4 linked regions of the Homo sapiens genome follow. The protein of the gene in region 2 interacts with the protein of the main gene of each other region in a biochemical or structural test. Each region holds a gene or a part of one and is shown on either strand. Other genes may lie near its edges.

Region 1 (7,019 bases), on a different chromosome or scaffold from region 2:
TGGTCTGTGTACCTCCTATTGCACCATAAAAATAAAAACATAATGTCTGGTTGTCTTACTTTTCATAAGTTAATAATTAATCAGTAGGTTCTGGTGGTAACAGCTTGACACATTCACTAAAAAGTTCCCAATTGACTTTTTGATGCACGGCTTCCCAAGTAAATTTGTATTTTGGACCAGATAATGCTTTGCTATGGGAGACTGGCCTGTACATCGTAGAATGTTTAGCAGCATCTCTGATACTCTCATCACCACTCCCACACACTGTCTTGTTGTGACAATAAAAAATGTCTCCAATTACTGCCAAATATACCCTGAGGAAAAATGGCCACAAGTTGAACACTTCTTACCTAATGGTTTTAGCAGTTGTTAAAAACCGTTGCCTAGGTCCATTATTTTATTAGGGTTTACAAGTAGTGATTTTTCTAATTCCATCATTCCTGCATTTACAACTGTGGTTTTTTTTTTTTTTCAAAAGAAATACTTTCTCTGGGTCTTTCTAGCAAAGGAAGAATAACTGGTTAATAATTTTATTTATCGATGCGTTTAGAATAGTGAGCTGTGCCCTAACAACCTCCAAAAGTGGCCAACTAATTTTTGTTTGGAGTATCATTCGGAAATCTTGAATACTGACACACTTCATGTATTTCAATCTTTTGCTGTCATTTCTTTTTTCTTTTTGATGCTCAAGTTTCCCCATCCTTAACCAGCAAGATCTCTTTCAACTTAGCTCAGGTTTCCTTTTGACATGACCTTAATAGTCAGATAATTTCTTGCTTTCAGGCATGACAAGACAGATAGTCCAGATTCACTTTATGCATTTCCTTTCCCAGACTTAGAATCTGCCACTCACCCAAGGAACCCTGATTCCTTTAATTTAGAAATGGTATTTAGGAACCACAATCTGGTCACAATGACCTTATGGTTTTTGGGTTGTCACTATTTCTAGGTCTTTGGAACATAGTTCCAAAGCCAGAACTATAAAACTAAGTTTATTTAGAAAGGTTTAGCTTCCACCATTGTTTCTTTCCTCATAGTCTCCCCTTTCTCTACAGATAACCATTTTTTATTAGATTTAGTTTATACTTCTTGTTTGTTGTTAAATCTATAACACACTCATACCCCTAAAAAGTAGCATACAATATTATACAGCTTTCATTTAAAAAATATTGTAAAAAATAGACATAACATAAAATTTACCATTTTAATCATTTTTAAGCGTGCAATTCAGTAGCATTAAGTACATGCACAATGTTGGACCACCGTCACCATTATCCATTTCTAACTTTTTCATCATCCTAGGCAGACCACTTTGTACTCACTAAACAATAACTCATCCTTCCCATTTTCCTGGAGCTCCTGGTAACCTTTATTCTACTTTGTCTCAATGAACTGCCTAGTCTATCTGTACCTTGCTTTTTTTTTATTTTAGTAGACTGTATATGCTAGAGATCACTCTCTAAGAGCATACAGAGTTTCTCTTCATTCATATTTGACAGCTGCATAATACTTCACTGAATAGATGAAGTCATACACAACAGTTGCTTGTTCATGGGAAGTTTGTGTTTCTAGTCTTTCACTATTATAAACAGTGCTGCAAAGAACAGTCAAATGTATGCACCATTTCATTTTTTTTTGTCTATGTATCTTTTATATAGGTTCCTAAAAGTGGAATTGCTGGATCAAAGGGTAAAGGCATAGGCAATTCTAGAGCATTTAGATTTAATGTGATGGACAGGAATGAACCATGAAGCCACGTAAGTATTAAACAACAGCAACAACAACAAAAAAAGCAGATACAGGATGTTTTAAATGGTATGACTAAAACACTGCTTTAAACCAGGAGATAGTTACATTAGTTAGCTCTTTTAGTTTAAATAATTTTATTATTTGAAGCGAAGTACGTGAAAATAACTGTATTGCTCTTTCTCTGGATTTTAACAAATCGGTGTCTCACATGAAATTATGTAACTCTTATCTTTTCTTCTGCTTTATGAGAATACTGTAACAAGGGGTACTACCTTCAGACCCTTTGACTACATGGAGAAATAAAGGAGGGAGTTGTGCCAATTACTGGAGAATTTTGGCTGTCAAATAGCACATCTGGGCAATTTGGGCCAGAAATACATATATATGATATATGATATATATATGATATATGATATATATGATATATGATATATACGATATATATGATATATGATATATATGATATATACGATATATGATATATACGATATATATGATATATATGATATATGATATATATGATATATATGATATATATGATATATATGATATATATGATATATGATATATATGATAGATCATATATGATCTATCATATATATCATATATCATATATCATATATATGATATATATGATCTATCATATATATGATATATCATATATGATCTATCATATATATGATATCATATATATGATATATGATATATATGATATATGATATATATCATATATATGTTATGTGTATATATGTATATATGTACGTGTATATATATACACACACACACACACACACACCCTCCTATACATATTCAACATTTTCCCCTTTAAACTAAGGTTTTCTAGGCTTGAATAAACCAGACACTGCTCTTTTGTACTGTTTCGCAAACTGTGCTTGGATGGTCTCTCCTTGTTTTCAGGAGTGTTTGATTTTTAAATTGTGATATTCCACTAAATGAGAAATGACCAGGACTTCACAGAGATTTCATGAAAGGAGGGCCACAAAGGAAGAACCCAGAGCAGGCCGGTGAGAGGCACTCTAAGAGGTACAGAGGGTTGCACCAATTGCTAGGATTTAATCAATCAGAAGGGGTCCAAGCCAGGAAGCAAGGGCATGCCCCGAGCCTCATTTACCCGCCTTGTCACCACCCTGCCCGCTAGTACATTTCAGAGTCTCTAACCCCTCCCTGCATGCAAGCCCAGGCAGAGTCCTGCCAGGTTTCACACCAGAGCACACCCCTGCACGGACTCCCCAGGACCGCGGCGCCGGCTGGCTGCCTCGGCCCCCCGCGGCCGCGTGAGCTCCCTCTTGGTGGTGGAGGGCGCATTTCAATCTGGAAACTCCCAGCCCCTAATTTGGTCCCGCAGACTGACGCCGCTCCCGGTGGGGCGGTGGGGGTAGGAGGGCAAAGGGGAGGTCTCCTCCTTCTTGGATTGAGGCTGCAACCAACAGCCCCGTGAGCCTCTATTCCTGGCTGACTGCGAATCCCCCCATCCCAGGTCAGGGGCCGGGACCCTACAGAAAGACCCGTTCTCATCCTCAACCTTGCGGCCTCTGTCCGGCGGGGAAGTTCAGCTGCGGGTCAGTTCAGCTGCGGGTCCGGCCAAGCCTGGCGCGCTTAGGCACCCTAGTCCCTGGTCCGCGGCCGGGCGAGGACGGAGGGGGAGGGGAAGGGGCTGCTGCCTCCTTTCCCAAATCCGGTCCCTAATCGCCCCATCCCCCGCCGTCTACTCGCTTTGTACAGGCAGTCAAAACAGAGCTAGCGGCCAATTGACGGGGACGGGAAGCAAAGCCGCCTAGCGCCTCGCCCCCTCCAGCCGGCCCCCCGGGCCCCTCCTCTCGGCGCCCGGACCTTGGCCCTCCCTCTCCTTTCCCACTTCTCTCTTTGCCCTAACTTCGCCCCCATCCCCCGCTCATTTCCTCTCGCACCCGGGCTCGCCAATCCCTCTTTCCAAGTCCCTCTTCCAGCCCGGCCTTCCTCTCGGGTTCGCCCCCCTTCTCCCCAATCTCCGTCCTCTTCCCTCCCTTCGCCCTCCCCCCCTTCCTTCCTCTTCCCCTCACCCAACCCTGGTTCCCCTCGTTCCTCAGTCCCGATCTCTCCCTTACTCTGTCCCCGCCCACTCTGCGCCGGCCTCTCAGTCCGGGTTGAGCCCCACGTGTGGACGGCCGCGCCCCCACTGACAGCCGCCGCCCGCCGGCCCGCCCCGCGCCCCGCCGGGCCTCTAAAACCCCCGCGCCGCGCCCTCCACCGCCGCATCTTCTCCAGCGCCCAGCCTCCCGCCCTCTCTCTTGCTGGCCGCACGCCCCGGCCCCGCGCACCTCCGCCCGGCTCCGCAGCCGCTACCCGCGCTTCGTTGCCCTGTGGGACTCCGAGCGAGCCCGGAGGGAACCCTCCTCTTCTTCTGGGGGCGACTTTTGTTTGCTTGCCTGTTTCTTTCTGGTGACTTTTGCAGCTTTCCAATATCCGTCTTCGGAGCGCACGGGAATCCGCCGAGCTCTGCGTGCAGGCCCTTTTTTCTTTTGAGGTTCACATTTTTTGAAATTTTACGCCAGGGCTTTTGTAATTTCCTCCCCCGCCCGCTGACGGTCCTGGAGTCGCTCGGGGCTTTAGGCCGGTTATGCAACGTGTACCGCTCGGGGCTGCCGGCTGCACCTCCGCCGCGCCTCGCCGCTCACTGCGCTAGACCCGGCGCCCCGCGTCTCGCTTCGCGGGCAGTCAGGGGGCCGGCGCTCTGTCGAGGTCTCCAGCTAGAGCAGGGAGCCCGAGCCCGAGGGAGTCCCCGGAGCCGACGAAGGGCTTATTAGACCCTGACTCTTTTCTGAGGCGCGCAGATTTTGTCTTTGATCACTCCCTCTCCGCGGGTCTACGGCCGCGCGCTTTCGGCGCCGGCGATGGGGAGAAGACGGAGGCTGTGTCTCCAGCTCTACTTCCTGTGGCTGGGCTGTGTGGTGCTCTGGGCGCAGGGCACGGCCGGCCAGCCTCAGCCTCCTCCGCCCAAGCCGCCCCGGCCCCAGCCGCCGCCGCAACAGGTTCGGTCCGCTACAGCAGGCTCTGAAGGCGGGTTTCTAGCGCCCGAGTATCGCGAGGAGGGTGCCGCAGTGGCCAGCCGCGTCCGCCGGCGAGGACAGCAGGACGTGCTCCGAGGGTAAGTGGGCAAGCGGCTCCGCACCTAGGGCTCCGGCTTGGGGGAGGGGGGAATCCTCAGTTTGGCGGCTTTCTGGCCCACTCCGTCCCAGACCCTTTAGCTGGAGCCTAGAGCTGCAGCCCCCTTTGCCAGAATATCCAAAGACCCCCAGGAGCGCGTCCCCCTTTTCCTTCCCAACCCCGCAGCTCAGCGGGCGGAAAGCCCTCTCTCCGGGGGTTGGGCGGCGGGTGGTTAGGGGGTCCAGGGGTGCCGATCGCAGAGCGTGTGCAGAGCTCGCGCTGCGGGAACAGGTTCTGAATGTCCGGCGGCAGGCGGGCCTGGGTCCGCCTGCTGCAGGGGCCAGAGAAGCCTGCTTGCTCCCCACGTCGGGGCCGCCGCTCGTGAGCCTTTTGTTTGAGGACGTGTGCAGGGTTCACAGCTCACCTTCTCATCGTCAACCCGAGCGCTCCACCTTGCGACGCGCTTTCCTTGACACGTCGGGGCCAAAGTAACAGTTGACCAAGGAGGAATGGATTTGGGAAGGAGGGCAAGGATTCTTTGGAACGGAATGGTCCCTTTGTTCTCTGCATCTGGAAGCTAGAATAGTAGCAAATTATATGTTTCCATGCCTCTTTTCGCCCTTTAAAAAGGCAGGCAAGGGACGACAGATGAAAGGCAGTGTTTAGACATTTCTGACCCTCCTGCATTCCAGCATCTAGCTCTTTTGCTTCCACGTCTGCCTCCCGATCTCCAATAATTTGAAGTGTAATTTTGATTTGTTTGTTGTCCTGAAATCTACTCGCTCGGGGCATTGCTTACGAAGACCGTTTATATGTTGCTGCATCCCTCTACCTATCTGTTACGTGACCGCGCTTGTCCATCACAGGCCCAACGTGTGCGGCTCCAGATTCCACTCCTACTGCTGCCCTGGATGGAAGACGCTCCCTGGAGGAAACCAGTGCATTGTCCGTGAGTGCTTGGCAGGGATCGCAGCTTGGGGCAGCGCACTCGGCCCTATCTCCGGCCGACCTCTTGCACTCAGCCATTTGGACGCATAGTTGCGTTTAAAATCAAGTGATCACATTGCACTGATAATCGGGACGCGGCCCCATTTGAATAGTGGGGAAGACTCAACCGGTTTGAGTCAGTTCAGACTTCACTTCTAGACTCTGTTGAAGGGCAATAATGATAAAGATTTCAAAGATAATTGAAAGTTTTATCTTTCTATGTCTATTAATACAAATTGGAAGAGGGGAGGAGTAGAGCAATTATCTAGATAACTCAAAACCACTTTTTCTGTAAAAAATCCAGATGAGACCACATGTTATTATGCAAATTATCAGGCTTTTAACTCTGCTTGAGGTTTGGGCCTTATGAAGATCAAGATTTCTTAGGCATTTATATAAAACCACTTTCTTATTTCTGGTTTTATATCAACAACCACATAACCTAGATACGAAAGGAGCATTCTCGCGGATTTAGTGTTGACCTAAGTTAACAAACTTTTAAAAGACAGAACTCTTACAAAGGGGCTTGAGTTTTTTTTTTTTTTTGCTTTTTGGAAGACGTTTAAATTTAGGGTTTCCAGACCCTGAACCTCAATAGTGTGCAGTAGATTTCCAAAGTATGAATCTTAGACCTTGAAAAATTCTGTATCTCTGACCTTAAAAGTTTTGATTATTTTATTCTGTTTCCAAAGTGTATAACCAGTTCTCCAAGTTCTAATTGGAGAGCTCATTAGTTATCAGCCTCACAGTCACGGACTCTGGGATGTCTTATTTCATATGCCTGTAAATTTGTGACTTGCAGTGTGACTGGCCTTCTCCTGTGTGTTTATGTAGCACAACCACATTTGTCTTGTTGGAAGGAGAGCCAGGTATCATAGACAGCACATTCATTTAGAGCCAGTCTTGACTTTAGATTGACCTCCATGTTCTCCAGGGAGAAAATAATTATGCAACTGTGAACAGAGAAAAAGGGCAAGGCACACTAACCAAGGGATAATAAGGATGTAGTGGCATTTCTAACTCTGTATTTATTGGTTTTGTGGTTTTGAGATAGATGCTTAATGTTATTTCTGGGCAGTTTTTAAAAAAGAGATGAAATCTCCAGTGTCATAAAGACTAATTTCTTCTTATTTTTTCTA
Region 2 (7,026 bases):
ACCTTATAGCTTGCCCGTTTGCCCAGTACATCTGCAATCCTAAAGTGCCCTCACCAGCCCCAGTCTCCTGTCCTTGTGTGGACATGGGCTCTGGGAGTCCCCACTGCTAGATGGACAGGCCCCCTCTAGATCGGGACAGAGCTGAGGACTACGTAGCAGAGCTGGCCACCCCTACCTCCAAGTGGGAACTGCCCGGCACCCCCTAGGACACCTCCAAGGCCAGCAGCACCTGAGAAGAGGCAGGTGGGGTCAGGATAAGACACCCCCATCGGGAAGAGGCCCTGATATCCCTGCTGGGTTCTGGGTTAAGGAATGTCCCAGACAAGATCTTCAGGGGTAGGGGGAGCCAGAGGGAGGCCTGAGCTGGGCTGGGGGAGGGTGGCGATGGGCATGGCAGGGGGTGCAGGCCACTGGCAGGAAGGCATCAGAGGGGAACTCACCGTATTTAGCTGCTTTAGCGGCTGCAGCTGGAGGTATACCTGGGGAGATGAGGCACATGACGGCTCAGGAATGCCAATGCCACCTGTCAGGCCCTGTCTTTTTTTTTTTTTTTTTTCTTGAGGCAGAGTCTCACTCCTTCGCCTGGGCTGGAGTGCAGTGGCGCGATCCCGGCTCACTGCAACCTCCATCTCCTGGGTTCAAGCGGTTCTCCTGCCTCAGCCTCCTGAGCAGCTGGGATTACAGGCACCCACCACCACGCCTGGCTAATTTTTGTATTTTTAGTAGAGACAGGTTTCACCATGTTGGCCAGGCTGGTCGCGAACTCCTGACCTCAGGTGATCCACCTGCCTCGGCCTCCCAAAGTGCTGACATTACAGGTGTGAGCCACTGCACCTGGCTAGGCCCTGTCTTCTGACCTACTCACCCTTTACCGTCTGCCCATGGACTCATCCTCCCAGTCTATCCCCCCATCTCTCCTTCATCTATCCAGCTTCTTGCTCTGTTGCCCAGGCTGGAATGCAGTGGCTTGATCACAGCTCACTGCAGCCCTGAACTCCCGGGTTCAAGTGATCTTCCTGCCTCAGCCTCCCAAGTAGCTGAAACTACAGGCACACACCACGCCCAGCTAATTTTTAAATATTTCGTAGAGGTGGTGGTGGGGGGGGGTCTTGCTACATTGTCCAGGCTGGTCTTGAACTCCTGGCCTCAAGCAATCCACCTACCTAAGCCTCCCAAAGTGTTGGGATTACAGGCATGAGCCACCATGCCCGGCCCCAAAAGTCTTAATTGTTAAGCTCCTACTGTGTGTCTGGTCTTGTGGCACTCACAGGAAGAGCTGTGCAGGCTAGTTTACAGGGGGAGACACAATGACAGCCCAAGAAAGGGGGAAATGGCCACACAAGGTCGGCCACCATGGTGGAGACTTAGGGAAAGCAATTTCTCTCCAAGCTTTGATTTCTTTCTTGGAGAACTGGCATAACCATCATTCTCCTAATTTACTCCCACCGCAGTGGTCAGGTGGGTTGAAAGAGAGAGGAGAGGGGGAGGACTGGGACCCTGGCGGCAAGGGATAGCCCCAGCTCCCGTTTGCCACATTTCTTGTTTTTATTTTGTTTTGGGATGAGGTCTTGCTCTGTTGCTCAGGCTGGAGTGCAGCGGCGTGATCTTGGCTCACTGCAACTTCTGCCTCCTGGGTTCAAGTGATTCTCCTGTCTCAGGCTCCCGAGTAGCTGGGATTACAGGCGTGTGTCACCATGCCCAGCTAATTTATATACATACATACATACATATATATATATATATATATATTTTTTTTTTGAGACGGAGTCTCGCTCTGTCGCCCAGGCTGGAGTGCAGTGGCGCGATCTCGGCTCACTGCAAGCTCCGCCTCCCAGGTTCACGCCATTCTTCTGCCTCAGCCTCCTGAGTAGCTGGGACTACAGGCGTCTGCCACCACGCCCAGCTAATTTTTTGTATTTTTAGTAGAGACGGGGTTTCACTGTGTTAGCCAGGATGGTCTTGATCTGACCTCGTGATCTGCCCACCTCAGCCTCCCAAAGTGCTGGGATCACAGGCGTGAGCCACCATGCCTGGCCTCTTTTCTTTTCTTTCTTTCTTTTTTTTTTTTAGATGACAGGGTCTCACTCTGCTGCCCAAGCTGGAATGCAGTGGTACCATCTCAGCTCACTGCAGCCTCTGCCTCCTGGGCTCAAGCGATCCTCTGGCCTCAGCCTCTCAAGTAGCTGGAAATACAGGTGCCCACCACCACGCCCGGCTTATTTTTGTATTTTTGGTAGAGATGAGGTTTCGCCATGTCACCCAGGCTGGTCTCAAACTCCTCACCTCTAGTGATCCGCCCACCTTGGCCTACTAGAGTGCTGGGATTGCAGGCGTGAGCCACCGCACCTGGCCAAGAGGACATCTTGAGCAAAGACGTGCCAGGGGTGGGAACGAAAGTCTCTGTCTCTGTCTCTGTCTCCATCTCTGTCTCGCATACACACACCACACACACTCACTGATTTCAGAACAACTCTCACCTCCAAGGCCCCCAACACCTGGAACTCCAAGCCCTCCGACTCCGAGTCCTCCGAGCCCAGCGGCTCCCACTAGGCCTGTGGAGACAGCTGAGCATTAGACTCCGCTGGTCAGAAAGGTGGGACTGAAGCCTCGGCCTGTGGAGGGCGGAGGTGTCCTCTGGGGACACAGGTGGAGCCTGAGGTCTCCCCTGGCCTTCGATGGCACAGTGGAGCCAGGAGGTGTCTGGGGCAGGGACTCTGAGTCTACAGTGCCTGGTCAGAAGCTCCTCCCACACCCTGGGGGCCTGGGGGCCTGGCGGCAGCTCCCACCTCCACCCAGTGCTCACCAAACTGGGCGGCTTTGGCAGCAGCTTTGGCTGCGGCAGCGGCGGCGGCGGGTCCGGCTCCTGGGAACACAGACCGAGTTCAGGGAGGCACTCTGTACTGGTTAGATTCCCTCCCCACCCTGCCCCTCCTGGGGTTTCAACTCACCCACCACACCGCCTGGGATGCCTACTCCACCGAGAGCCCCGAGCCCTCCAAGGACCCCAGGCACTGCTGCTCCTGCGGGGAGAGGAGGGAAAATGAGTGTTCCATTTCTGAACGATGGGTCTCCCTGCCCCAGGGACACAAGGCAAGCAGACAGGTGGCAGGGGCCATGTGACACTGTGGAGGAGCAGTGGACAGGAAGTCCAGTCCATATTTTGTTTCATTTTGAGATGGGGTTTTGCTCTGTCACCCCGGCTGGAGTGCAGTGGTACAATCATAGTTCACTGCAGCCTCCAACTCCTGGGCTCATGCGATCCTCCTGCCTTAGCCTCCCGAAGGTGTGAACCACTGTGCCTGGCCTTAAAAGTTCTTTTGTAAGCCGGGTGCGGTGGCTCACACCTGTAATCCCAGCACTTTGGGAGGCTGAGGCTAGTGGATCACCTGAGGTCAGGAGTTTGAGACCAGCCTGGCCAACACGGTGAAACCCTGTTTCTACGAAAAATACAAAAATTAGCCAGGCGTGGTGGCGGGCGCCTGTAATCCCAGCTACTTGGAAGGCTGAGGCAGGAGAATCACTTGAACCCGGGAGATGGAGGCTGCAGGGAGCCAAGATCGTACCACTGCATTCCAGCCTGGGCGACAGAGCAAGACTCTGTCAAAACAAACAAACAAACAAACAAACAACGGTAATAGTATCTACAGCAGGCACTTAACATTTTGAGTGCTTCACACTTAGCAGCCCATTTTTTATGCATTGCAGCAGGAAAGGTAGGCACTATTGTCATTCCCATTTTGCAGATGAGAACGCTGAGGCAGAGCAGAGGTTAAGCAGTGTGCTCAGGGCTTCAGGGACGGGAAGTGGCTGGGGAGCCTGCGCCCTTCGCGGCTCCACCACATGACGTCACTCTGTTTCCCTGGCAATGTCTGTTGACTCAGGCCTGCCAAGCAGTCAGCAGTGAGCAGGGGAGGAGGCCAGGGCTGCTGGGGGTCGGCGCTGAGGAAGCCAGGATTTTCCGAGGTAGAAACTGGCCCCAAGTGGACCTGCCCGGCTGGTTGGTGGATCCCTGGGGGAGTCTTCCACCTCCCACCAACGCTGCTCACAGGAGGCCAGGAATTCAGGGGCTACAGACAGCGTGGGTCTGGCCAGGCAGGGCTGCCAGAGCGCCAAGTGCAGAGGCTGTGGGACTGCCACGTCCTCTGGGCTGGCTCGTGGTGGGAGCGGTCCTGCTGGCAGGACAGGAAGGCGGGCGGGGGCCCGGGGTGCCCAGATGAGGAATACCAGCTCCTTTGCTCGGGCCAGAGAGCTGGGGTGGAGGCAGAGACTGCCCAGACTCCTCATACCCACAGCAGGCCCAGTCCCTTCCTGGACACAGGGACCATGTAACTGTCAGGGTCAGGGCAAGCTTAGGGATGGTGGAATTGCCTCCTGGGGGGCAACTGGGATTTCAAGGGTGTTTTTGGTGGTCACAGGGGTTGAAGGCACCATAAGCATTTAGTGGGCAGGGGCCAGGTTTTTAAACTGTCATAAACGTGTCCTAGAAACTGCCTTTTTCTTTTTCTTTTCTTTTCTTTTTTTGAGATACAGTCTCGCTCTGTCGTCCAGGCCGGAGTGCAGTGGCGTGATCTCGGCTCACTGCAACCTCCATCTCCTGGGTTCAAGCGATTCTCCTGCCTCAGCCTCCCGAGTAGCTGGGATTACAGGTGCCCGCCACCACACCTGGCTAATTTTTGTGTTTTTAGTAGAGATGGGGTTTCACCATATTGGTCAGGCTGGTCTGGAACCCCCGACCTCAGTTGATCTGCCCACCTCGGCCTCCCAAAGTGCTGGGATTACAGGTGCCCGCCACCACGCCTGGCTAATTTTTGAATTTTTAGTAGAGATGGGGTTTAACCATATTGTTCAGGCTGGTCTGGAACTCCTGACCTCAGGTGATCTGCCTGCCTCGGCCTCCCAAAGTGCTGGGATTACAGGTGTGAGCCACCACGCCCGGCCGAAACTGCCTTTTTCTATTGTGACCACCCCAGTCCTGTGCTGTCAGGGATGGTGTGGTGGCAAGGGAGCCACAAGTGGTTGTGGGGTGCACTCACCATATTTGGCTGCTTTAGCGGCAGCCAGGGCTCCAGGTACTGGGGAGAAAGAAAAGTTGGGGAGTGGTCAGGAGCCGAGCTCTGTGCCTGGGAGTTCTGCCGCCTCCTCTAGAGAGCCCTCCCTGACTTCCTTGGCCTCTATTGCTTCCTCAAAGCCCTGAAGCTGTACAGGCACAGAGCTTTAGGGCTGAACAGTGCCTCCACCTTCCGTCTGCCCCTTCCTTCTCTCCCCAGGCCTAGCATGGACTGCCTGAGGCTGGGCACAGAGTGGGGCTCAGTCACCAGCTGGTGAAGAACTGGAGTTCCTAGTGGTCCCCTGGCCACAGAGCACTGCTGAAGGGGAGCCAGGCTGATCTACCTGCTCCTTCCCTGGTTGGAGGGCAGGCTTTTTCTCAGTCTGGAGCCCTGCCACCCCTCTACTGAGGAGGCAGATACTCTGCAATTGGGCAGCCTGGGGTCCCTTGGCCTGGTCTGCCCTCCTCCCGCTATCTGTTACCCCCAGATGCTTAGGAGAACCTAACAAGGATTTTACTATGCACCCCTGGGTGATGAGGGGGTGCTGGGGAGGTGCTGAGAGGAGGAGGGATCTCCTTCCCTGAGCTCAGGGGACAGGCTCCGCCTAACTCCCTCATCTGCACCTGCCCCGAAGCCAGGAACACCAGCACCAACTCCAAGTCCAGGAACACCAGCACCAACTCCAAGTCCAGGGACGCCGACACCAACTCCAAGTCCAGGGATGCCAGCACCAAGCCCAGCTGCAGCTCCTGCAGACAGAGGGCAGTGGTGGCGACAGCAGGCAGGGAGCATGCCCCTAAGGAGGTGTCCTGCCCAGGGAGCTGAGCCTAGTCCCAGAGGAAGGGGCCCAGATCCAAGCAGCGGCCTCCTCCCTGGCTGTTGCCCCTAACCAGCTCTGAGATCGTTGGGGAGAGGAGAGAAAGGTGGGCGAGGCACTCACGGAGCTGGGCTTTGGCAGCCACCTTGGCAGCGGATTTTGCTGCAGCTGAGGGAGGGAGAGAGAGGGGGATTAGAGATGGAGGCGGGGCCCATGGAGGCTTCGGGGGCCCCTCAGGCTCATTGACTCATGAAACTCACCTGCAACTCCACCAGGGCCAATGCCGGGAGCCACGCCAACGCCAGGAGCCACACCAACTCCAGGAGCCACGCCAACTCCAGGAGCCAAGCCAACTCCAGGAGCCACACCGACACCAGGAGCCACGCCAACTCCAGGAGCCACGCCGACACCAGGAACTAACCCTGCAAGATTGAGAAGAGCTGATCATTAACCAAGACCTGATCAAAGAGGACAGAAGCTTATGGAAAGAGGGCTGGAGCCTCGGCCCTGGCATAGATTTGCTGTGTGACCCTGGATCAGTTACTTTCCCTTGCTGGGCCTCAGCTTCCTCCTCCCTAATATGAAGTGTGTGCAGGCTCAGGAGTTCATAACTTTGTTTTTTTGGAGACAGAGTCTCACTCTATCGCCCAGGCTGGAGTGCAATGGCGTGATCTCGACTCACTGCAACCACCACCTCCCGAGTTCAAGTGAGTCTCCTGCCTCAGCCTCCTGAGTAGCTGGGACTACAGGTGCGCACCACCATGCCCGGCTAATTTTTTTGTATTTTTAGTAGAGACAGGGTTTCACCATGTTGGCCAGGCTGGTCTTAAACTCCTGACCTTGGGTGATCCACCCGACTTGGCCTCCCAAAGTTCTGGGATTATAGTTGTGAGCTGCTGCATTTGGCCAGGAGTTCTTAACCTTTTCAGTGACAAGGACCCCTTGGAGATTTGAGGCTGATGGAGGCAGATTTACATTATATAAGGGACTTTGTAAGACAGAAAGGCTTTGGGTTCAAATCTCAGCTCAGCCACCATTTAGCTGTGCAACTGTAGGCAAGTTACTTAAGCTCTGGGAACCTCAGTTTCCACATCTGTAAAATGGGAAAAATAAAATCAACTCTGTAAGATTTTTGTAGGCCAGACACGTTGGCTCATGCCT
Region 3 (7,026 bases), on a different chromosome or scaffold from region 2:
GTTTGAGGAAGTAGCATTTCCCTCTCTGTGTTCCTTGAGACACATTTGGCTGAAGAAGTCAGAGTCTTACCTTCTCCACGGGGTCTTAAAAAGAGCTTTGTCTCCCATGGGTCATGAGCTACAGTGACAACTTAACGGCATTCGCTTCCCCCAATTCTGGTGAGTCGTGCAGTTGAGCTAGAGCTAGTTGGGTTTGAGCTCTGACAACTTCATTCGCAGTCTTTTGTGTTCCAAGAGGAATTGTAGGTGCTGGAACCTGATCATAATGCTCCCAGCTTTGTTCTTTAGAGTCACTGGAGGGTTTTGAACGGAGTGACATGAAATGCCTTTATGTTTAAAATGGGCCATTCTGGCTGCTGCTAATTGAATTTACACTGGTTTTGGAGAGAGTGAGGGCATAGAAGGGTGGAAGCAGGAAAACCAGTGGGAAGGCTGTTGCAGAAATTGCAGGGAGAGGATGAGGCTTTTTGACCAGGGTGAGGGGGTGCAGTAGTGAGAAGTAAAGATATTCTAAGTGGATTCTGAAGTTACCCCTAAAAAGAGTTTTTGACATATCAAATGTGGATGGTGAGAGAAAGGAGGGTCAAGGATAATTAGGTCTGAGCAGTGGAAAAATGGAGGTGCCATTTACTCATATGGGAAAGACCAGGGGAGCAGCTGGTTTGATGGTGAAGGCAGGGGCTCAGTTTCTATTAGTTTCTGATTTCTATTATACATCTAAATGGTGGTAGCAAGTAGGGTTATTGGCTATGTGATTCTGCAGACCATGTGCTTTAAGTTGCAGGAATTAAAAAGGAAGGAGAAGCACCTCCTCTTGTTTAAGTTCCTTTGGGTAGTCCTAACATAAATGAACAAGTTATCTCAATAACCTTCTGCAGCAGAGTCTTCTCAGAACAACCTGTATTTTGGACAAAGCCTCAATGGCACTGTGGAAGCAGCCTGGGAGGAAACTGCTTTGCAACCAAAGCCAGCAGGACTTCAACCATGGAGTGAGCTGTGAGGGAGGGGACAAGAGGAGAGGATGCTGGAGAAAGGGGGGGAAAGGGCAACACGGCAGGAAGCTAGAGCCTGCAGGAAAAGATTCAGCTTTGAGATAATCCCAGGCGCAGGGTGGCTAAAGCAATTCTGGAAACTGGGCTGTGGAAGAACCATTTTTAAGCTGTTTGCCACCACCTCTGCTATGCTTTACTACTAATTCCACTCAGTTTTACCTTTACTCCATGTAGTTTTCCAGTGGGTAGACAGAGGGCACCGTGGCGCTGGGCTTTCAGTAATACTTTCTAAGACACACACTGGCCAGTCGCAAGATGGCCCTCTCCTCAGCAGCTTCGAGCTTGAAGCTTGAAGCAAGTGGGGAATGAATACAAATTGGCTTTAAGCATCACCTCGGCTACTGAGTCCCCAAGGATCACCTGCACAAGTGCTCTGTCAGCAGAGGCGCCCGAGGTACAGGCAGGATGGGCCTTGTGGGCCTCTCCTGGCCAGAAGGAGATCATGCCCCTTCCCAGGCTGAGTGAGCTGCACTGCTGATCTTACCTCCTCTTGTTCTTTCTTGATGTGGCTGGGCCTTGATGACAGACCCTCCTGGCAAGAAAGAAGCATCACATGATCTATTTCTGATTCCCATGGTGGAGAAGTACTTAGAACACATTTGCTTCCCAAGTTTGGTGTCCACGGGCTTGGCTGAGACCTGGACAGTAGGAGAAGGAAGGCCAGGAGGCCAGGCATGGGGTCTTGAGCTACATTTTGCATTCTGTCCTTGACTCACAATCAAAGGTTTTTCTTCTTCCCTCTTCCCCATCTGCTCAGAGCCCACCCAGAGGCCCCCGACCATCTGTGAGCGCTGGAGGGAAAACCTGCTGGAGCACTACGGTGGCACCCCCCGGGATGACCAGTACGTGCCCCAGTGCGATGACCTGGGCCACTTCATCCCCCTGCAGTGCCACGGAAAGAGCGACTTCTGCTGGTGTGTGGACAAAGATGGCAGAGAGGTGCAGGGCACCCGCTCCCAGCCAGGCACCACCCCTGCGTGTAAGCACCTGGCCGCCCCCGCTCCCCTCAGCTGTATCTAAGGCCTTTGCTAGGGATGGTGCCTGCTGTGGTGAAGTGGGGGGACATGTGGGGTCACCAGGTCTAATGAAAGAAGTCACTATGTGCTATGTTGATTTATAATCTGGTCCACACAAGATCCCAATTTGCGTTTGGTGTCTGGTTTTTGTCATTAGCAGCTTCCATAATTGGAACATCTGCAACTCGGTTCAGCAGGCAGTTACTCCCCCTCCCCAGCCCAGGGTGACAGGGGACACGTGTCACTCTGGAGTCCTAAAAGGAAGCTGACACAATGCTGGCTCTGTTTTTTTTTTCTCTTGAAAAAAAAATCTGTTCTGCTTTGTTCTGAGGGAAGTGTTTTGCTGTCTTCTTCCCTAGTAAATGGCAGATTTACATAATTGATCCTTAAAAAAACCCTAGAAATTAGAATTTCTTTTGAAGAACATCTGGAGCACATCTGCGTAGGGCGAAGAACTTTTGATATTTTTGGAGGCTCTGGTATGTGGTAAAGTAACTTTTCTTCCCATCTCCCTGCCTGCCCTTGTTCCCCTTCCTGCTCTCCCACCCTCTCTCCCACAGGTATACCCACCGTCGCTCCACCCATGGTCCGGCCCACGCCCCGGCCAGATGTGACCCCTCCATCTGTGGGCACCTTCCTGCTCTATACTCAGGGCCAGCAGATTGGCTACTTACCCCTCAATGGCACCAGGCTTCAGAAGGATGCAGCTAAGACCCTGCTGTCTCTGCATGTAAAGTGGATTTCTCCTGTAGGGGGCAGGGCTGCGTGGCTTTCCCAGTGGGAGCCACCTCACAGGCCCTGTTGCAGTGAGGTGGACTGGTGCAGGGAAGTCCTGGAGGGTTTCTGAGCTGCAGCCCATCGGCATGGGCCCGATGCCACCACCATAGGACCAGGGCTCTCTCTTGCTGGGAGTCACCTGTCACTGACCAAGGCTGTGCTCTCTGGTTCGTTCATGGAGTTTCAGATAATATGGAAAGGGAACTTTAGAGTTGTCAGCACATGGAGGCTGTATGGTGATCCAAGGGAAAATGGACCGACTCTTACCCTAAGTCCCCAGGGTTGTATGTCATAACATCTCCATGGAAATCCTGGAAATCAAAGTGACAGGACAACTAGTCACAAGGTGTGATCTCTGCGGTTTGTTGGGGACTCCAAGTGGAAGTCAGTTAATGACTGTCTCACCGTTGCAGCCCTTCCCTTTCACTTTGGTTCTGTCCCTTTGACCCACTTCTTTCCTAACCTTCCCTGACTCCATAGATGAAAACTTGAGGAGTGTGTGATGCTGGGAGAGGAGTGGATGGAGCCTTCCCCAGGGGATGTTTGATGCTTCCTGAGCCAGCAGCCTCCCTAATGCAAGGCACCCCATTTTGGGGAGCGGGTTTTCTCAAAAATGGAGGAAAAAAAAGGGTGGCTGTCTCGAATGGCATCGACACAGTGGAAAATCATCTGATTCCATTGTTGAACTTCACACTCCAGGCACTTGCTCATCCCTGAGAAAGAATAGTACGGCATTCAAGTTTACATTTACTTCTGTTAATGAACGACACTTATTTGGTTCCAGAAAAGCTTAGAGGCAGCCAGTGTTTAGGAAGAGATGTGTTCTTTTTAAGATTCGAGTTTGTTGGGTCCTGTCCCCTCCCCCAAGAAAACTCTCACATTGTTTTGTAAAACTTTCTCTGGAAGAGGTAGAGACTAAGAAGTTGACATCACTTTAAGCTAACCCTCTTTTATTCAAGTCATAGAGCTTGATTGCCTTTCTGAACATGCCCCTGACCAGGACAGGGTGGTGATGGTAGTGGTAGTGGAACTGAAAGAAATGGGACGTGGGTTATTTGCACATTTTAAGGAAATTTACTTAAACTGGGACTTTTTCTCTAACCTGAGGTTATGACATGGGTTTATGAATCCCATGATTCCCGGGTTAATGGAAGCTCATTTGAATGTGTACTCTTGCCTGGGACAAACGACTTTTCAATTTTCAAATAAAAGTGTAGTTGACCTTAGGCCCGCCCCCCATATAAGCTGCCTGTTTTTCCACTGAAGCCAAATCCCGTTTTGTACAATCTTTCTTGGCTGACTACGCTCCCAGGGGGCGTAAGTGAAGCCAAGCCCCAGGAGGCTGTTAGGCAAGGCAGGAACTTGTATGACCTCAGGGACAGCCAGCTAACCCCTGAATGTTGGCTTTGCACATCTGCTGGGCTTCTCAGAGCAGGAGCCTGGATTGGAAACTGAATGAAGCAAGTTCTGCATGGAGTTGAGGAAAAATATCAGACTCAGCATTTTTTTTATTTTTATTATTTTTTTAAAAGACTTGTCATTTATTTAGCAATGAGGAGGAGAGACCTCACTAGCCAGAGGTTGGATAACCACTACTCCCTAGTTCCTTAACCCAATAAATTAGATTTTTTCCTTCTTTTGAGACAGGGTGTAGCTCTGTGTTGCCCAGGCTGCAGTGCAGTGGCACCATCTCGGCTTGGTGCAGCCTTGACTTCCTGGGCTCAAGCGATCCTCCCAACTCGGTCTCCTGAGTAGCTGGGACTACAGGTGCGTGCCACCATGCCCAGTTCATTTATTTTTTGTTTTTTAGACGGGGTCTCACTATGTTGCTCAGTCTCGAACTCCTGGGCTCAAGCAATCCTCCTGCTTTGGCCTCCCAACGGACAGGGATTACAGGCGTGAGTCACTGTGCCTGACTACACTTTCTTTAGTACAGGATATAACCAACATCTTGCCTCCTAAGAGTCAGGGGCAGGAGTATAGGTGATTGTACTTCAGGTAGAGGAAAGATCTCATTCACAGAGGAGGGGAGAGTAGATTTTGTTGGCATATAGTGGCAAATTTTATTAAGGCTCTGGGAAAAGTGCTGATGACATTGGGAAAAGATTCAGTTTTTACCCAGTAAAATATTAAAAACTTATTTTGCTTAAGGCCATGTCCTCTAATTACTGAAGGGGCTGATTTTTTTTTTTTTTTAAATCATCAGTCATAATAGCACCTATTGAAGGGCTTACTGTATGCCAATTACTGATTAGGACACTTTACAAGCACTTATAGTATTAATTTTTATAGCAACCATATGAGGCAGGTACACTATTGGCCTCATTTTGCAAATGAGACAAACGCATAGAGGTTAAATGCCCAAAGCCACATGGCTACTAAGTGGCTGAGCCTAGATTTCACCCGAGTGCCCACATGTCCAGCTACTCTGCTCTGTTGCCTGCAGGATCACAGTGCAGTGTTGCTCACTGCAGCTGTGCATGAGCAAGGCAGCTGAGTGTGAACAAAGGGGAAATGTAACCTAATTCTTCTAATTCTATGATTTGATGCACAAAGGGCTCCATAATCGTGGGAATTGATTACGACTGCCGGGAGAGGATGGTGTACTGGACAGATGTTGCTGGACGGACAATCAGCCGTGCTGGTCTGGAACTGGGAGCAGAGCCTGAGACGATCGTGAATTCAGGTCAGCAGCTTCACTCAGCAGTCTGCATTTCATTTGATTCTACAAAGTCACTTGTCTACTTTACGCCGAAGTCTCCCCTCGATTTTTCTCCATTAGGGGAGGTTAAGTTCTAGGCAAGTCATTTTATTGAGCTGTATAAGACTAGCCCCCTCTGTAAGCAAACACCTTCATACATACGGAATGAAATAGGTGATTCCTACTGTGCGCACTTCTTAAAAGAATTCATGGTAAGAATTCAGGGTGACGCCTTCGTTTATTCAGCCTGGCTCTGGCACTGTGGATGCCGGTTGTCATCAAACTGGTAGGTCTGCTGGTCTAGAAGCTAGAGGTAGTGGAATATGTAACAAAAGTACTTGTTTCTCTATTAACCTGGTTCTTGGGGACTTGGAGACACTTGGGCTTTGCTTTCCCCTGCTGACCCCCCTGCCCACCCGACCGTTGGAGGGCTTCAGGTTTGCCCTCCATATCCTGCAAACACTCCAGTCCTGACTTTGCTTTATTTCCAGGTCTGATAAGCCCTGAAGGACTTGCCATAGACCACATCCGCAGAACAATGTACTGGACGGACAGTGTCCTGGATAAGATAGAGAGCGCCCTGCTGGATGGCTCTGAGCGCAAGGTCCTCTTCTACACAGATCTGGTGAATCCCCGTGCCATCGCTGTGGATCCAATCCGAGGGTCAGCTGGGCTTCCCTAATTCTTCTCTTACCTGTAGATCCTGATGTGAAGCCCTTGGGTTTTAAATACAATGTGGGGAAGGTCAGAACAAGAGAGTGAAAGCTCAAATGCATTCATGTAACAAAGATTTACTGAGGATCTAAGAGGTGTCAGGACCTGTTCTAGGAAAAGACAAGGTCTGTTCTTTCATGGCACTTATATTTTATTAGGAGGAAACAAGACTGGTATAAACAATATTAGTCTGTGATGTGATATGTAGAAAATTCAGATAGTGTTGTGAGAACTAGGGCTACTCTGAATCAAATGATCAGGCGAGGCCTCAGCTGACACTTAAACTGGAAGTGAAGTGGGATTCCTCCAGCAGCACATTTAGAAACCAGGGTTGACGCTCACAGTAGGGCTGACCTACATCAAGTGACATTAGCCAAAGCTCAGACACCTCTGGCTTCAGTGTTGCTGTAGCAGAAATCAAGATAAACATTTTCCCTGTCTGTATAATTGCTAAGGTCATCAAATGTGACATACAGGATTTGTTCACTGTCTCAGTACTTGTTACAATCAGGGAGAATTTTTATATCTTGAGAAACTCTTGCCATGTTTAAGTGGAGTTTCTACGAAATGAAATTCCCAGATGCCCTTCAAATCAGTAAAGAAAACCTTCAGCTTTAATTTTCAGGTAAGTGCTTTTTGACTATGAAATACTTAGTGCAGTGCCTCAAAGGTGGTTTCAAACTTTGGGTTCTACACACAGGAAAAGTACCTGTATCCTTCTCTATTCCAGTTGACTTAACAGGAATTAATAGCCCTCTTAAAAACT
Region 4 (7,026 bases), on a different chromosome or scaffold from region 2:
CAATGATATACAATCCAATGAATGAATGAATGGATGTTCTGCCTGAAGTTTCTATTTCTTTCTTGAATTACTTCTCTTTCCTATTGAGAGAAAAAAAAAGAACATTCTGATATGTAGAAAATGCATAAAAACCATCCTAAGATTATACAGGCAAAGGAAATGTCACAGAAAGTATAATCTATTATTCACTCAGACCATTTCTTGTCCCTGGGACAAAGATTCTGAAGAACAACCTCCAGAGGCTAAGAAGGCAGGATTGACTGGAGTGTGGGCCCAGGGCTCAGGTACCTTTGCATCTTGTTTCTACCAGTTTACTAGATGTGTGACCTTAGGTAGTTTACTACTTAACCTCTCTTAGCATCAGATTACAAATCTGTAAAATGTGGATAATAATGTCTCATTGAATTCTTGAATTAAATGAGTTAATCCATGTGAAGTCTTGGGATACTGCAAGTACTCAATGCATGTTAGCTATTATTTATTTATTTTTTGAGATGGAGTCTCACTCTGTTGCCCAGGCTGGATTGCAGCGGTGTGATCTTGACTCACTGCAACCTCTGCCTCCTGGGTTCCGGCAATTCTCATGCTTCAGCCTCCTGAGTTGCTGGGACTACAGACATGCACCTTCACGCCCGGCTAATTTTTGTATTTTTAGTAGACATGGGGTTTTACCATGTTGTCCAGGTCTCGAGCTCCTGGCCTCAAGCGATCCCCAACCACCTTGGCCTCCCGAAGTGCTGGGTAAAGGCGTGAGCCACCGCGCCCAGCCAGCTATTATTTTTATCATTCTGAGTATAGCATTAGGAATCTTGTATCTTAATCACTTTCTTTGGAATCTATGTTTTCTGCTCATATTACTTTTTAGATTAACTCCCTACATATACAGCCCACATAATTAAATTCTATTTCCATTTGTCCAGAAGTTACTTGTTTCCAACTCTGACCAGAGATGCCCTTTTGTCTAATACTTAAGGTTTTAATGCACTAGTCTCTTTTCTTCCTGTTAAATTTAATCAGCATGCCTCAGACCTTCTTTAGTCTCTTTGTATTTTTCTTAGGGTTCTAAAATATTTATAGACTGCTATAGAATATTCCATGAGTTCCACAGTTTTATGTAAGGGGAGGATAGTATTTTCAGTTTTGTTCATGATAACTTTACGAACAATAGTCAGCATTTTGTGAATCTTTTGGACAGCAGTGGTTCTTTACGTCGTAACTTTTGGGAATAGTTACACAGCATTTTCCAAAGTGTGTTCTCTGAAGTGCTAGTTTATGGGACTCATTGAGACCCATAAAAAGGATTATAATTTAGGAAACACTGAGTTAAACATTTGTTCAATACTCCATACTCTCTAATAGTCTATACACCTGAAATACAGTAGGTAGTGTTTCTTGAACTTATTTCTCCATAGCCTCCTTTTCTGGGAATCACCCTGTAGGACTAGTGTTCTGAGAATACAGTTTGGGACATGCTGATTTATAGCAAATGCTAGGTTGAACTGATATCTTAAATCCAGTGTCTTACTGGAATATTTCTCCCCTGAGGACAGTCCTCTATTATGTGGAAGCACTTTCATTGCTCACGTGATCATTTGAAGAATCTTAAGTGATCTTTTTGCAGTGTATTCTCTTCATCCTGATATTTTTACTGGCTAGGTTTAGTTATATCTGCTGATTTAAAGATGTCATTCTGTATTCTTTTATTCTTACTAGGATAAAAAGCTTACTGGGTAGTGATAGGCAGGAATATGTCGTAGAAAAAGTATGAAGTCACATAGCCCTCACTTGGAATCATGGCTCAAGCACTCGACAGTCACATGACCTTGGACAGTCCACTTAGCCTCTTTGAATCTTACTTTCCTTATCTTTATCCAGAGACAGAGCTTTTTATTCTTGTCCTTTGATTTCTTTCTCAAATACTACTTTTGGCTGACTCAATACAGTAAATCCAAATCAGTGCACTTAAAAAAACTGAATTTGGAACTTGATTAAACCAAAAAAGCATAGACTGGGGCAAGGGATATACATAAGTATCAAGACCAGGAATGATAAGCAGTTTCTGTCCGTGGTTAACCGCTTTCTCTACATGTACGTGCAAACAGGAAGAGCAGGGTCACTTATAATTATCTAGGATTGAATCCTTAGGAGTGGGCAGCTATGAAGAAAGGTGTTTTGTCCCTTCAGTCCACCCCTACAGGGGACACTCTCCTAAACTATTTAAACTGAGAGAGGAAGAGCAGTGGGTGGCAGCTTGAAGAAAATCTGGACAATATCATTTGCATAATTTTACCACATGATACTATGTTACTGAAACTCACAATCAACATCTTCATAGTATATTACAGCCTAGTTATATTTTAAGTATCTAAGGTCCCCAATTCCTCCCCTCAATAGGCTTTTTGATATGAGTTCCAGTGTGGTTTTCCAGGTAAATACCCATTTCCCAGCCTTTCTTTTCCTACCCCACTCTAAAAAGAAAATGGGAAATCCTCTTATTTGAAATAATAAATATTACCATATAGTTTCTGAATGCCTTTAATATCATCCTGGGAAAGTTTAAAATTTTGGGGATCTCCATTTCCATAGGTTGGATACATCACTGCATTAGGATCAGAGGAATGTCCCATACCCAAAGAATGGCCAAGTTCATGAGTTGCAGCATACAGGAAGTTAATCCCTACAACCGAAGAAGTGACAAACAGTAATGATAAAAATAGCTACATACATTATGTAATATTATATATATGATATCATAATTTAAAAAAACTAAAGAAAAATACCCAAGTTTTAGCCCACGGTAGCTTACTTATTTGTTTCTAGGCTTTCAAAAGTGGAGAGGGGTTAGAAGGTTAATCAGAATAGGAGTGCTTTAATCTCATCACTACTTCTGCTTATTAAAAATGTGTAATTTTTTTTATTTGCTTCTTTCATTCAGGCAGCAATACTCTGCAGTGGAAAGCAAAGGTTTTAAAAGCACTAAGACCTAGGTTTGAAATGTAGCTCCACTACTTACTAGCTGGACAACTCTGGACAGATTAATTGATGTTGCTGAGTCTCAGTTTCTCATCTGTTAAACAGAGACAGTAATTTCTGCCCTCTAGATTTGTCATGATAGCTAGAGTTTCTCAATATTTGGGAAGTCACGGCCATTCAATAAATGTTAGTGACTTTGGATATCAGAAGAGAGAATGGTGGCTTTGAGAAAGCGAAGATTGAAAGGCAGGGTCTCTAGGCAATGCTGGGCTTTGTTTTTGATTTTGATTCATTAACTTGTATTACATATATCCTTTGTTCTCCCTCATACTCATTGAAAGGCTTTGCAAGTATGTGGAAGGTGTGAGCCCGTGCGTTTGAGGAGTGGCCTGAGCTCTGGTGGCGTTGCATTGAATTGAAGGAAGCTGCCTTTAACCTACCTTAAGTGGGAAGAAAGAAGAATGAAAAGAATATGCCAGATGCAAATGGGAGGCAGCATCACAATTTAACATAGATTTTCACAGCAAGACAGCAAGCTATGGTGAATTCCTTTTGCCAAACACAAGTACAAATTTCCCTTTTAGGGCCAGTTGGTAGCCTTAAAAAAATTGTCTCTAATTGGGATTATTTATGCCAGAGCTCTTCTCCATTAGTTCTCTCATGTGCCTATAATATCCTACTATGTAAAATGATAAATATGATATACTAAATCATGGAGTTGGTTCTTTCTGGAAAATAGTGAATAATTCCAGAATTGCATATACTTCTCAAATATCATAGTTTCTACTTCTCTTTCTTTTCCATTTGGGGCATGTATTTTTTGGAAATATGAAGAAAGAGCTATAATTTAATTAATTATTAATACATTCCAAGCACTGTATAAGCATTATCTCATTTAATTTAAAGACTCCTTGATGTGGGAACTATTTATATTTCCATTCCACAGAGGAGGAAACTGAGGCTCAGAGAAATTCAATAACTTGCCCAATGACACAGAGTAATTGGTAGACGTACAGCAAATTGGATCAGTGGTGCTTGACTCCATAGCCTGAGTGTCCATCTTCTGTGTGTAGCATTATGAGTATATTACATGAAATAATGCATTTCAGGCATATAGTACAGTGTTTGGCACTTAGCAAGGGCTCAATACTTATTATAAATTAATATAATTATTTAACTTAGTGTAAGTCCAGGATTTTAAAACGGATGTGGAGTAGAAGAGACATGAGATGCTATACCTAGACTGCTACCATCCGTCCAGCGTTCATCCTCATCGAAGTGAGCATCTCCTCCGAGACCTGTCCCAGGCGCAAAGGCATGAGCCAGCGTGTTTCCTGGCCCATCAAATGGGTAGGAGTCCCCATGAGCTGAAAGAAAATGGAGTGATTGTTCTTAGTGACTGATTTTTTTTTTCTCCAGTCATTTTATTTTTCAGTTTATACGATTATTGAGGCTAGAAAAAGCAGCCCAGTCCAGGCCAGGCATGGTGGCTCACTTTGCGAGGCCGAGGTGGGCGGATCACCTGAGGTCAGGAGTTTGAGACCTGTCTGGCTAACATGGTGAAACCCCGTCTCTACTAAAAATACAAAAATTTGGACATGGTGGCACATGCCACCAAGTAGTAATCCCAGCTACTTGGGAGGCTGAGGCTGGAGAATTGCTTGAACTCAGGAGGCGGAAGTTGCAGTGAGCTGAGATCGCGCCACTGCACTCCAGCCTGGGTGACAACAGTGAAACTCCATCTCAAAAAATAAATTAAAAAAAAAAAAAAGGCAGCCCAGTGCAAGTAGCTGACATTGTTATGTGCTGTCGGTTGCACTCACAGGGTAGTTTGGGTGCTTTCTTGGCCCAGACACTTTTCCTTTCACAGAACCATTGCTCATCACTGATAATCACCATATATTGAAAGCTTACTGGATACAGGACTTAAAATGCAGTTATATCTAACTTAAGGTTGCATTTAAGCTTTTGTTAAATTTGACCACTTTGCTCGGCCAAAGGGTGGTGGGAGGGAGAATGAATATGAATACCACATTTGGCAAGTAATTTGTGCACCATTTCATAGGTTTTTTTTTTTTTTTTTCTTAAAAACCTAGCTTATTCTTCGTGGGCATAGTAAATAGTCTCTTAGAGAGCCATGCTCAAGATCTCTTAAAATGGCTTTTTATAGTCCTTTAATGTGTGATGCAGAGCTGGTTATCTTCGAGGTGATATGAGGCCAGTCCAGTTTATCTAGCTCTTAAAAAACTTGTAGTGCCATGATTAGTGCTTTCCCATAACATTTTCTTCGGTGTTGTCAATATTGTGGGTTGAAGTTCAAATTTCAGCTACAGTAGCCGGACCATTCCACATAGAACAGACTGAAATGGGCAACATTTTTCTCTAAATTTGCACCATGAAACACTAGCAATTAAGAACAATTTATGTATATGGGTTTTATATATACATATATACACACACACACATATATAACACATATACTAAAAAAATGGGTTTTACATATAGAAAAACCCACGTAAAAAAAAAAAATATATATATATATATTTTTTTTTTTTCTTTTGAGACATAGTCTTGCTCTGTTGCCCAGGCTGGAATACAGTGGTGTGACCTTGGCTCATTGCAACCTCTGCCTCCCAGGTTCAAGCGATTCTCATGCTTCAGCCTCCCAAGCAGCTGGAATTACAGGCATGCGTCACCATGCTCAGCTAATTTTTGTTTTAGTAGAGATGGGGTTTCACCCTATTGGCCAGGCTGGTCTTGAACTCCTGACCGCAGATGATCCACCTGCCTTGGCCTCCCGAAGTGCTGGGATTACAGGCGTGAGCCACCACACCCTGCTGTGTTATATATTTTTAAGTTCTTTAATATGAAAGTTTCCATTTCCTACTTCCTTGCCACATGAAAGGCATTAGCAACAGGTCATATACCACTTCTCAGGGGACTCTTGAGGCCTTTGGAAGCTGCGACTCTTTCTGTTGATTTAATATCGATGTTAGGTAGATATATTGTAAACATATAGTCATGTGCTACATAATGATCTTTCAGTAAACAGATCACATATACAATGGTCCTATAAGATTATAATGGAGCTGAAAAATTCCTATAGCCTAGTGATATAGTAGTTGTGATAATGTCATAGCTCAATACATTACCTTTTCAATGTTTAAATACGTTTAGACACACAAATACTTGCCACTGTGTTACAGTTGCCTACCGTATTCAGTATAGTAACATGCTGTATAGATTTACAGCCTAGGAGCAATAGGCTATACTATGTAGCCTAGGTGGATAGTGGGCTGTATCACCTGGGTTTGTGTAAGTGTATTCTATGATGTTAGCACAGTGACAAGATTGCCAAAGTTCTCATTCTCAGAGTGTATTCCCATTGTTAAGCAGTGCATGACTGTATATATAAATAATAATTCACGTTACAAAACAGGGGTTGGCAAACTTTTTCTGTAAAGGGTCAGATAACAAGTGTTTAAGCTTTGTGATCTCTGTCACAGTTGCAGCCTGAGCCCAAACAGTCATAGGTAATAGGGAAATGAAGGAGCCTGACTGTGTTCCAGTAAAACTTTATTTACAAAAACAGAAGGTGGGCTGGATTTGGCTCATGCATCATAGTTTGCCAACTGCTGCTATAAAAAGTGGCTCTATATTACCAGATTATAAAAATTATAATAATATTGCTAAATCTATCTATTAACTATCTATCTACCAATCATATCTCATTAAAGGATTTTAATCTTCATAAGAAAAGAGCACTGATATAAACCATGAACAAACAAAACAGGACACAGGATTAGCCTACAGGAATCTTTCTTACCTCCTCGCGCAAAGCCAATCATGATGTCAGCAGTTCCCCATACAACTTTCCTGAAATGCAGGGGGATCTCTTTGCCCCACATGTTTAAAGCCTTTGACACTAATCGATCCACTGTAATATGCGGTAAGTCTCGAGTATATGATACGATCCTAGTAGCAAACAAGAAAACAATGTTTGACCCCTAGGAAACAGGCTTTATTGTTTTTGCCAAAATGAGCCAGAGCAAA

What was found.
Region 1: the proteins of ELN (region 2) and FBN2 form a complex in vitro, tested with the Homo sapiens proteins (one study listed by BioGRID).
Region 3: the proteins of ELN (region 2) and NID2 form a complex in vitro, tested with the Homo sapiens proteins (one study listed by BioGRID).
Region 4: of the proteins of ELN (region 2) and MMP7, one has a biochemical effect on the other in vitro, tested with the Homo sapiens proteins (one study listed by IntAct).

What each region holds. Positions count from the first base shown.
Region 1 is NC_000005.10:128,535,225-128,542,243, reverse strand, and holds the start of FBN2 (fibrillin-2 precursor), read left to right. Parts: upstream 1-3,998; 5' UTR 3,999-4,640; coding exon 4,641-4,894; intron 4,895-5,759; coding exon 5,760-5,842; intron 5,843-7,019.
Region 2 is NC_000007.14:74,059,147-74,066,172, reverse strand, and holds part of ELN (elastin isoform a precursor), read right to left. Parts: exon of another isoform or gene 6,306-7,026; coding exon of another isoform or gene 6,288-6,305; coding exon 6,126-6,287; intron 6,034-6,125; coding exon 5,989-6,033; intron 5,798-5,988; coding exon 5,672-5,797; coding exon of another isoform or gene 5,573-5,671; intron 5,073-5,572; coding exon 5,034-5,072; intron 3,964-5,033; exon of another isoform or gene 3,893-3,963; intron 3,021-3,892; coding exon 2,949-3,020; intron 2,864-2,948; coding exon 2,804-2,863; intron 2,553-2,803; coding exon 2,478-2,552; intron 480-2,477; coding exon 441-479; intron 230-440; coding exon 176-229; intron 1-175. UniProt on the Homo sapiens protein: Major structural protein of tissues such as aorta and nuchal ligament, which must expand rapidly and recover completely.
Region 3 is NC_000014.9:52,010,059-52,017,084, reverse strand, and holds part of NID2 (nidogen-2 precursor), read left to right. Parts: intron 1-1,809; coding exon 1,810-2,031; intron 2,032-2,628; coding exon 2,629-2,798; intron 2,799-5,401; coding exon 5,402-5,531; intron 5,532-6,037; coding exon 6,038-6,209; intron 6,210-6,390; exon of another isoform or gene 6,391-7,026.
Region 4 is NC_000011.10:102,520,725-102,527,750, forward strand, and holds part of MMP7 (matrilysin preproprotein), read right to left. Parts: intron 6,949-7,026; coding exon 6,800-6,948; intron 4,341-6,799; coding exon 4,212-4,340; intron 2,678-4,211; coding exon 2,516-2,677; intron 81-2,515; coding exon 52-80; 3' UTR 1-51. UniProt on the Homo sapiens protein: Degrades casein, gelatins of types I, III, IV, and V, and fibronectin. Activates procollagenase.